Regions from separate parts of the Homo sapiens genome. Here region 1 is linked to region 2. The links come from fine-mapping of genetic effects on gene expression. A gene starts in region 2. The other region holds a variant in brackets. All regions are shown on one strand. Distances are between the middles of the regions.

Region 1 (5,394 bases), 300 kb after region 2:
AGTGGACTGACATAGGGCTAGGATGGTGGATGAGAATGGATTATGAAAAGCCTTAAACATAAGGTTATATTATTTTCCATTTTAGTTCGCATGTTTGTATGTATGTTTGTGCATATATACACACAAAGACATTTATACACATATATACATATACACTAACACAAATATACATATTGTTCTGCTAGAAGAGAAATAAATGTTCATTTTACACAAATTAGGAAATAAAATATAAACAAAAATATTTCACAACTCAAAAAATGTTAACATTTGAAAGTATTTCTGTCTAGGTTTTGTTCCATGCAGTAAAAATATAAGTTGCCAAAAATTTCTTTCTTTTTTTTTTTTTTTTTTTGAGATAGGGTCTCACTCTATCACCCAGTAGAGTGCAGTGGTGGGATCTGGACTCAGTGTAACCACTGCCTGCTGGGCTCAAGCGATCCTCCCACCTCAGCTTCAGGAGTAGCCAAGACTACAGGCATGTGCCACCATGCCCATCTAATTTTTTGTACTTTTTTTTTGATAGAGACAGGGTGTTACCATAATGCTGAGACTGGTCTTGAACTCCTGAGCTCAAGTGATCTGCCTGCCTCAGCCTCCTGAGGTGTTGGGATTACTGGTGTGAGCCATCATACCTGGCCAAGTTACCAAAAAGTTTAAATTCTTTTTCTCAAGTACGTCCACAGTAGCACTGTGTTATAATATATATGATATATACATGATATATAACCATAACATTACAGTATAATTTAATATAATAATATAATACAAATACAGTAACAATTTTTAGATTGCATTACCAGGGATGCACATTTGAGGCACTTCCTTGCTGTAAAATGAAGTCTTGGGATTCCTGAAAGCAGTTCTAGATACAGCCACAACAGACTGATGGATGCTAGGTGAGTGTCTTGTTACTGCCACTATGTCTTCATCAACTTGATCCACATACACCTGAGAAGCAGAAAGAACAACTAGATTAGCTCTCAAACTGGAAAGACTTACTCTGAAATTGAACCTGAAGAAACAAATTTAATTATTTCTTGCCTGAATAAAACCCTTGGCTCCAAGCTCCTGATGAAGTTTACTGATAGCACACCTGGCTGCAATAATGCCGCTTTGGAAATTAACTTCACCTGTGTTTGAAGGCAATGCTTCAGGATTCCACTTAGTGTAAAACCGTTCTTCAGAAACCACTGAAATCTGGACAAAGGTAAAATTTAGCATGGATACATCTTAATTACAATGAATTTTTTTTAATAAAAATGCCCAAAGTTGTTGGCCATGTAGGTTTTAAGAAACAACATATAAACAAACCTGATGAGGCACTAATTCATCATAGCCTCTTGTACTTCCACTAGCACAACATGCCATAGAAACAATTGTAGTACTTGGAAGAGCATCATACGCTGATCTATGCTAGAAGACAACAACAACAAAGCAAAAGTTTGCTTTCTTTCAAATGCAAAGTGCTATTCTATAGCATAATGAAGTAAAAGGATAATTACATAAATAAATTCATAAGGTAAATTAATTTGCTTTTAAACAAGTAAAACATTCTGAAAACTATGTATTATAAATCAGTTATAAATCTAAGACACTATTTTGAAGTATATGGGTATGATTGTGACCAAGTGTCAGAGAGTTAAATATCAAAGCATTTAGCAAAATAAGTACATGAAAAAGATTAGGTGCTTACCACAATAGGACACTCATTATCATGCGTAATATCCATAAACAGGGCATGTGCAATAGCTGGCATTAAAGGCCTCAAACAGGGCTGAACAAAGGATCCAACAGGTTCTCCTCCATATCGGTAAACTAATCTGCCCTCTTCATGACTATTATATGCACTCATTGCCTCTGCAGAGCATTACAGAATATTTTAACAATCTTCATTATTTATGTCCAGGAAGAGGTTAGATTTCTTCTCATAAATGATTTTCAAAATAAAGACCACATCAATATTATAAAAAATAAAACTGCTTTAAGGATTTAAACAAATGTCTACTAGTTTAAGTGACAAAAAAGTTTTCCCCATAACTTAACTGGAGAAATGGCTCATGTAAGGAAAA[G/A]GGAACATATGTTGTTTACTGGGATGTAAGCTATACAAAATTGATTATAAAACATCTAAACATTACATCATATCTCCCAGTAGAAGATGAAAAACAGGTTTGCATATTTTCAACAACAAAAAATGGTTTTGTTAGTGAGTCTTCAGTTCATCCTACTGGTCTTTCAATTTGAAATGAGGTATCTTACCCCAAAGTAGAAATTTATACTGATAAAAATAGACTGAGTTATATTAGAATATGTCATACAAAGTATTTAGAAGAACATTAACTGTGTTAAAAAATTATTAAGCATTGCATATGAAGCTATTAAATCCTTTAATCTACTTAAACAAAAGCTAAAGTTTTAGAGGGAAATACACTCCAACAAGCCTACCTCTTATTAAGGAACTAATGCCCAGTCTAGTAACAAAGACATTGTCCAGATCTTCACTTCCTGTGAACAGTTCAGCTACTACATATAAATTGGGTTGCAAATTCCTAGCAGCATCCAACATGTACTGTAAAAAGCACAGTGACAAATGTAACAAATAAATGTAACAGAAAGAGAAAAGCAAGATAGGAGGAAGGAAAGAGACAAAAGGAGGCATGATTTGACATAGAAAAATATGCAGCAAGATATCAAACATACCAAAACACATAGAAACAAGAGAATTTATCAAGAGAAGAAAACGGTTAAAAAGGAAGATTAGATTTTGCAAAGATATTGAGACATGAGAGAGGAAAAGAAGAAGAAAAATGTTAGTTTCATATTACTAAATGTAAATCATAACACTACAATTCTGTTAGGTTTTCTCCCTGTTTTTTGTTTGCTTATTTATTTATTTATTTATTTATTGAGACCAAGTTTCGCTCTTGTTGCCCAGGCTGGAGTGCAATGACATGATGTGAGCTCACCACAACCTCCGCCTCCCAGGTTCAAGAAATTCTCCAGCCTCAGCCTCCCGAGTAGCTGGGATTACAGGCACGCACCACCACACCCAGCTAATTTTGTATTTTTAGTAGAGATGGGGTTTCTCCATGTTGGTCAGGCTGGTTGCAAACTCCCAACCTCAGCTGATCTGCCTGCCTGAGCCTAAAAGTGTTGGGATTACAGGCGTGAGCCACCGTGCCTGGGCCTGCTTGCTTATTTTTAAAACTTTAATCAGACTTAATTTCCAGGTGGTTGACTAAATAATTATTCATAAATTCCCTGCTGGTGAATTACTTAGCTGTTGGAAAGATTAGATTTGTCTGACCAGACTGAAGCCAGTTTCTCCTACAGATGATGATAAATAACTCTTAAAAACTCTTACACCTTACAATTTCCACTTGTGTGATTTACGTTTAACACTGGTGCTATCTATCTAGCTGTTTATTATAAACACTGGTTTATAATAAAAAATCAGATTGGTTCCAAACTGTTAAACACAACATTTGCACAAAGATTAATAAAATACTTGAAACTCTATTAGCTAACAAGTAGAATCCTAGATTTTGTAATTTAAAATTAAGTAAATTAAGTTTGAACATTCTTTTCTGCCATGTAACAATCTTAGAAGCATATTTCTTTTTGCTATTGCTAAAAGCACAATAAAATAAAGCCGTCATTTTTTGGAACTAAACAATGTTCTACCAGCTTAACTAATATTCACTAAATCCCTCCAAATCAAATCAATTTTTCATCATAGGACTTGAAATATATATTATAATACTGCTTTAATATTATAGAAATAGACATTTTTTAGGTAAGCACACATTTCCAAAGAACACCTAAGTGACACTGGTCACTAGTAAGGTATCAAAAATCTTATAAGCAGTGCCACTGTAGGGTTTCTAAAAATAACAAAAAAAACTTATAAGCAGGATGAAAATTATGAGTTTAATTACAAAGATTGTATTAGATAGAAGTTAATACTATAAGTATTGGCATTGTTCAGAAGTTATTGTAAAGAGCTCAAAGAGAAATAGACAATGTTTATGTTTACACTTATAATTTTTATAAATAATAAAAATTAAATCGATGAGGCTAGACTGGCTTCAATATGCTATAATGTTAATGTTTATTTTTTATTTAATTTAATTAATTAATTTATTTTTTAGACAGAGTCTCACTCTGTCGCCAGGCTGGAGTGCAGTGGTGTGATCTCGGCTCACTGCAACCTCCACCTCCTGGGTTCAAGTGATTCTCCTGCCTCAGCCGCCCGAGTAGCTGGGACTATAGGCACACACCACTATAATGTGTAATAAGCTATTCACCTTCACAGTCACTTCTAAAATATATTGAAAGCAACCTAAAAATAACAAAAATTAACATTTTATGTATTCACAGTAGCCAATATGATTGCACTCCATATTATCAGAAACGTGATCAACTTCCCTAAATTAAAATTTTAAAATTAGCTAGTTAAATATTTTATAGCCCAGTATTCCATAACAACTGCAAAAGATTGTTAGAATTATGCTAATTATGCAATAGTGATAAATACTACCACCAAATCAATGCTTGTGTCCAACTAGCAAAAGGAAACATTTACCTGCATAGTTTACTTAAGGAAAGCTAGGAAGGAACACTGAATTTCTTTTCTTAATGTAGATAAATTGTTTTTCTGTACCTCAGCTACGTGAAGAGGTGTTGAGTGGCAGTTATCAAGACGTACTCCCTGGAAATAAGTTGCAGTTATTTCAGTGTATTTTTTCATGTGTGCCCAGAGATAAGGACAGTCCTCTGGTTTATTCCCATAGCGTAATTTAACACTGTCTCCCCAGCAAATAAGTTCTCTCCTTAGGTAAACTTCTGAACCTGTTCAGAAAAGAGATTGCTTTCAATGGTTCAAGAAATAAAATGAAAACAATTACTTCAAGGAAACACTGGTTTTTAAATTGCTTTGATCATTTCTGCCATAAATGATATATTGGTTAAATTATATCTAAAGTGGTATGAGATAATGTTTTAAAAAATTAATAATTATTTATTTCTCATAGCTATTCTGAAAAAACTCTAGCTTACAGTCTCTTCTAAAAATTTGTCCTCAATTTCAAAAACCCAAGTCGCATCATAAGGGAAAACAGAAATGTTAATATCATAGGCCTTTTAAAACCATAGTTCTACCAAAAACATTTAAAACTCCATCTCCACCCTCCTACTTATTTTCGGCAACAGGTTGTATTAGATCCATGGCATACAGCAGAATGGCTTGATTTCGTTTAGAATGGCTAGAAAAAAGAGGGCAGAGATACTTACACCCAAATTTATACTCTTAAAAAAAAGCATTAAGATTTCTGAATAAATTTTAATGTCACTAATATAGACTCCTAGTTTCGAAATGTTAAAAAATAAATATATCAA
Region 2 (5,394 bases):
TCTATCTCCATAATTTTTTATTTGTCCTTTTGTAACTGGCTTACTTAGCATAATGTCCTCAAGAATCATCCATGTCGTAGCCTTTGTCAGAATTCCAGAATTACATTACAGTACTTGCCTAGTAAGGGAGTTGCTGCTGCTGACCCCAGAACCAGCTACATCTGCTGAGGCTAGGCAACTTTTGCTGCCAAAACAAACCCCAGAACATACTGCCTTTGCTGCTACCCATGCCAGCAAAAATGGACACCAGCGACACAAGTCACCCAACAGAGCCCTTTGTTGGTGTATATAATTAGTGGAACCTTAGTAGTGTATAAAATTAGTCACATACCCCATTCCAGTAGCAGGGGAGGCTGGGATTTCTTTTCCCCCTCAAATTCTACCTTGGAAAGGTAGGATTCATGATGTGGGGGATTATAAAAATGTGGATGGTGTTCAAAATATTTTGGACAGTCGTAAATGACAGATAGATATTCATTATATAGTGCCTGTCTCTTTGCATTCACTTTCTACATCCCTCCAAAGTCACCAAAATTCTGGCTAATTTGTGTCATAAATAGCTCAGGCATCTATTCACTTTCCCTATCCTCCCGGGCATTTCTTTAGTGTAAGTCACTCCATGGGGATGGGAAATAAAAGGTAGATAAGGGAAGGAGAAGAGAGATGCCTTGAAATTTGTGGGTTCTCTATAAATACTGTCAAATTAAAATTTAATTGTACGTAGTGCCAAAGGCAGAAAGAAATCTTAATTTTCTCCAAGGTAACAATATACTGTTCTTTTTAACTGAAACAAAACTCCCTGGATCTCTCTCTCTCTCTCTCTCTTTTTTTTTTTTTTTCTTCAGACAAGGAAGGCTCTGTTGCCCAGGCTGGAGTGCAGTGGCACCATCACAGCTTGACCTCCCTGGCTCAAGGTATCCTCCCACCTCAGTCTCCCAAGTAGCTGAGACTACATATACACACCACTACACCTGGCTAGTTTTATTTTATTTTATTTATTTTTATTTTTATGGAGACAGGGCCACCATGCCTGGCTACTTTAATTTTTTTTTTTTTTTTTTTTTTTTGGTAGATACAGGGTCTCACTCTGTTGCTCAGGCTGGTCTCCAGCTCCTGGGCTCAAGTGATCCTACCATCTTGGCCTCTCAAAGTGCTGGGATTACAGGTGTGAGATCTTGATTTTTACTTATGAACACATGCAAGCACTCTGTATGTGTTGGGTGGTGTACACTCTCGGGACAGGGAAGTTAGAGTTTCAATTGTGGCCATGGCTTCTTTACTCTTTCTGTGATCTTGAGCAGTCCCACAACTCTTAGAACTTAATTCATTATAGAAGTGTTGGAGAATTTCTGTGAGATAATCAGGCATAAATTTTTAAAGCATTAATATTGCTGAGATGTCCAAATGACTACATAAATTATGATCCACCTACACGCTAAACTGCTATGTAGCCATTAAAAAGAATGACGCTGCTCTAAATATACTAATATGAAACAGTTTCCAAGATATCCTGAGTGAAGAAAAGACAGTATAGAACAATGTATATAGTATGCTACCATTTTTGTATGTGTGCATGCCTTCACATATGTGTGCTTTTAAGGGATATAGGCATATTTAAGCTCGTAAATTCATAGACCATCTTTGTAAAGGTACACAAAGAACTGGCAATAGTGGTTGCCTTCAGAGAAGAGAACTTGAAGAGAACCTCCCTACTGGAGGCAGGGATGGTGGAAGGGGTGGGGGATGGAGAGAGTGGAGATTGAGCTTTTGAATTCTGTTCCATGTGCATATATTATAAATTCAAAAAAAGATATAGTTTATTTTTTAAGAACCTGGAATTAAGTCCTATCTATGAAAGCTGAAGAGATCAAAGTGAGAGGTAATTTAATTTGAAGCCCAGGTACAGCAGAAGTTTGGGGCTTCTGTGTTACTCATGCTTATCCACACCTTTATTTTTTCTTTTTCTAAAGCATCTGGGTCTTTAGTTCAAATATTTGCAGATCCATGGTTTACTGGGTAGAATTTTTGTTGTGGCATACATCAACATATTCCAAGTTTCTCTGCTTGGATGGAATAGATGCATGAAATTCTGTGAAATGATTAAGCTGTGAAAAGTAGAAGGACTTTGAATAGGCATTATTTTTCAAGATCTTAGAAATAGTTATGCCTGATAGTTTTATAATGTCTGTAGCGTATTTTGCAGTCCACAGAACGCACTCACATACATTATCAGCTGATCCGTCGCAAAGAAGCCTCATGTGATTCTTTCTATTCTCAGCTTTGTCCATGAACTAAAATTAGAACTAGGCTGACATTACATTTCACTTGGTTACAGCTGACTGGGGATTTTAATCATTTGGAGCCACACTGAAAAAAAAATTTCCCCCTGCAATCTACTCTTAACTGATAGTCGCTAACTTTGGTTATGTGTGGTAAGTATTTGACAATGGTAAGTATTTTTCAAAAACATTTTTCCTTTCTTCTTCACATGTAAATAGATTGCTGCTGATACCTATACTGTGTCTGTATTGGTTGGAATGTCCAAACAAACTGGAATAGAATTTAAAAGTTTTTTTGCGGGGTGTTCATGGTCACTCATATAATTGTGCTCCTCTGGAAGATAGATTTCCCCAGAAGTAAGAAACAATTCTTCTGCAATTCTTTTCTATGCTTACCTCACTTGTCACATTATGTGCTTTTTTTCTATTATGGTACTAATCAGAGTAGAGAGCAGTCCTGTGCTGGAGGAAGAAATATATCATTATTGACTTGTGTTTCCCTAGGGGAAGTTGGTTGTTATAGGAAAACTGATGGATGAGCAACATTTAATGGCAAATGAGGAAATGAATTAGCAAATGGATGAATTGTTTTACATGTCTTCTAAAATACATGTATACATGTAGATACTTGGGAATTCAAAAATATTTTTATTCGAGTATTTAGCAAAAACTTCAAACTTTCTTAAATTAGAGACAATAAATTGTAAATTGGTTGCAATATGCTCAGGAAGTTGGATTACCAGTGTATGTATCCCAAGGTTTCTTCACAGCAAAGAGATCTCGCATTCTGTTCCTGAGTAAATTCGGCATGCCTTGCTTAGAGATTCTCTCAACAATTTCCTGCCTATGCCAATTATTTATCAATCTTGAAATTTTAAACTTTTTTCTGTAATATAGTTCTCCTCTTTCTTTGACTGTCTCACACACATATATACTGCATAATATTAGTTTAAAAAATCAATAATTTAGAAGAGGTTAATAATGAAAAGCAATATTATCTATCCGATTCCTCTCTATCACCAGTCCTGCTCCCTAGAAGTAATCATTTTAACCATTTTGGAATTTAGTTTTCAGTGGTTATCTCCATATTTCTCTCTTTTTTTTCTTTTTCAAAGACAATTGCATGCTATTTTTAATCAACTTTAAACATCTGTGGAGCTTCATTATGAGAGGTGGGGATTAAGTTCCCTTACACTGCCATAGAGTTATATCCCTATTTTTAGCTTCTCTCTTGATTACCTTAATAACTTTAAGCAAATACTTTAATCTTTATTTCTTGTTCCATAAGGTACAGACAGTATCTGTTGATTCCCCACTTCGAAGATGTGGATATCGGTGTTCTTATCATTTACTTCTTTTCCTTATTTCCTTCTTCCATATTCTGTTAAAAGTACTGTCACTTTTATGTTTTCAAGATATATGGCATTTATATTCTGTTCTGTAACCCTCAATAAGTCTTCCTTACTTTTTTATAGATTGATTTATTTCAAAAGTTTAAGACCAATACATAGACTTTACTATGTAATTTCTGTTTTCTGCAGAGCCAACATTTCCTTCTCAGTATCAATGTCATATTCATTGTACTAAAGAAGAATGTTAAAATAGATTCTCCTTTCCTGCACTTCAATAAATGCTAAAAAATCATGCCACATTTTGTTGGCTCTATATATGGACTGTGGCTTTCTTGTACAGTGTCTTCCTCAACACAATTTCTGACTGCCTTTCTTTTTGCTTATTGGGAGAAGAAATTTCATCTTTTCACCATATCTCCAATGTCACACAGTTTTTTCCCCCTTAATTCTAGCTATTTTTATAATTCAATGGATGAATACTGCCATTCCTTTTTTTTGTTTGTTTTTGAGACAGAGTTTCATTCTTGTTGTCTGGTCTGTAGTGCAATGGTGCAATCTCAGCTCACTGCAACCTCTGCCTCCCGGGTTCAAGTGATTCTCCTGCCTCAGCCTCCCAAGTAGCTGGGATTACAGGCATGTGCCACCACGCCTGGCTAATTTTATGTTTTTTTAGTAGAGACGGGGTTTCACCATGTTGGTCAGGCTGGTCTTGAACTCCTGACCTCAAGCGATCCACCAGCCTCCCAAACTGCTGGGATTACAGGCGTGAGCCACCATGTCCAGCTATTGCTTTTAAAACATTGTTTTACTTTATTTTTAATTTTTTTACTATCATGTAAAACATTGCTGGGAACAGTCTTGTTCATGTTTCCTGGTGGAGACACACCCTTCCTCTAGGTACATACCTTTGAATGGAATTGCTGGATCATAAGCTGTGCTTATCTTCAATATTAGTACATAAGTATTTCAAAATAGTTAATACTAATTTACAATTTCACCAATATACCAGGAGTCCATGAGGATTTCTGTAACTCAAATTCTCACCAACACTTGGTATAATCAGCCTTTTGAATTTTAGCCATTCTGACAGATGTTCATTGGTATCTTATTATGTTTTTATTAAGGTGGAGCACAACTTCATTTGTTTTTGGTCATTTGGATTTTTTTTTCTCCACAGGGAAAGTTCTACCATTTGGATTTTATTTTTTGAAAATTTCCTGTTCAATTGTATTTTCTGTTGCCTTTTTCAGCTGATTTTAAGGAGTTCGTTATATATTCTAGATGTAATCCATTGGTGGTTATATATATTGCCAATATCTTCCCCCACTAATGTACATGGTATTCCTTTTATTTTCTAAGTGATGTCTTTCAATAGGTTCTTAATTGTAATGTAGTCCACTTTATCAATCTGTGTTAGGCTGTTCTTGCATTGCTATAAAGAAATAACTGGCCAGGCACAGCAGCTCATGTTTGTGATCCTAGCACTTCTGGAGGCCAATGCAGGAGGATCACTTGAGCCCAGGAGTTCAAGACCAGCCTGGAGAATGTGGAGACATCCTGTCACTACCAAAAAAAAAAAAAAAAAACTGGCACACTGGTTCTTGCTGTAGTCCCAGCTATTCTGAAGGCTGAGGCAGAGGGGGCCCAGGAGATCAAGGCTACTATAAGCCATGATTGTGCCACTACACTCCAGCCTTGGTGGCAGAGTAAGCCTGTCTCAAAAAAACAAAAAACAAACAAACAAAAAACCACAAAACAAAGAA

Which allele goes with the higher level. Positions count from the first base shown, and alleles are read on the strand shown. Sizes are in standard deviations (SD) of each study's normalised expression.
As copies of G replace A in region 1, the expression in atrial appendage of the gene that starts at base 2,311 in region 2 goes down (small effect, 0.37 SD a copy in GTEx).

What was found. PIP is the estimated chance that this variant, and not a neighbour inherited with it, causes the effect.
Region 1: its variant is the best candidate, but not a certain one, in a credible set for the expression of LRRC39 in atrial appendage (GTEx, PIP 0.59).

Annotation. Positions count from the first base shown.
Region 1 is chr1:99,877,095-99,882,488 of GRCh38, reverse strand. It overlaps AGL (amylo-alpha-1,6-glucosidase and 4-alpha-glucanotransferase), which reads right to left. Exons shown (of 34, transcript NM_000642.3): 12 at 4,661-4,848; 13 at 2,443-2,566; 14 at 1,694-1,857; 15 at 1,312-1,413; 16 at 1,042-1,197; 17 at 798-948. Among named protein-coding and RNA genes, the nearest start is that of AGL, 29 kb to the right of the region's middle. The variant G/A (reference allele first, on the strand shown) is at 2,070.
Region 2 is chr1:100,175,173-100,180,566 of GRCh38, reverse strand. LRRC39 (leucine rich repeat containing 39) reads left to right here and starts at 2,311. Exons shown (of 10, transcript NM_144620.4): 1 at 2,311-2,432.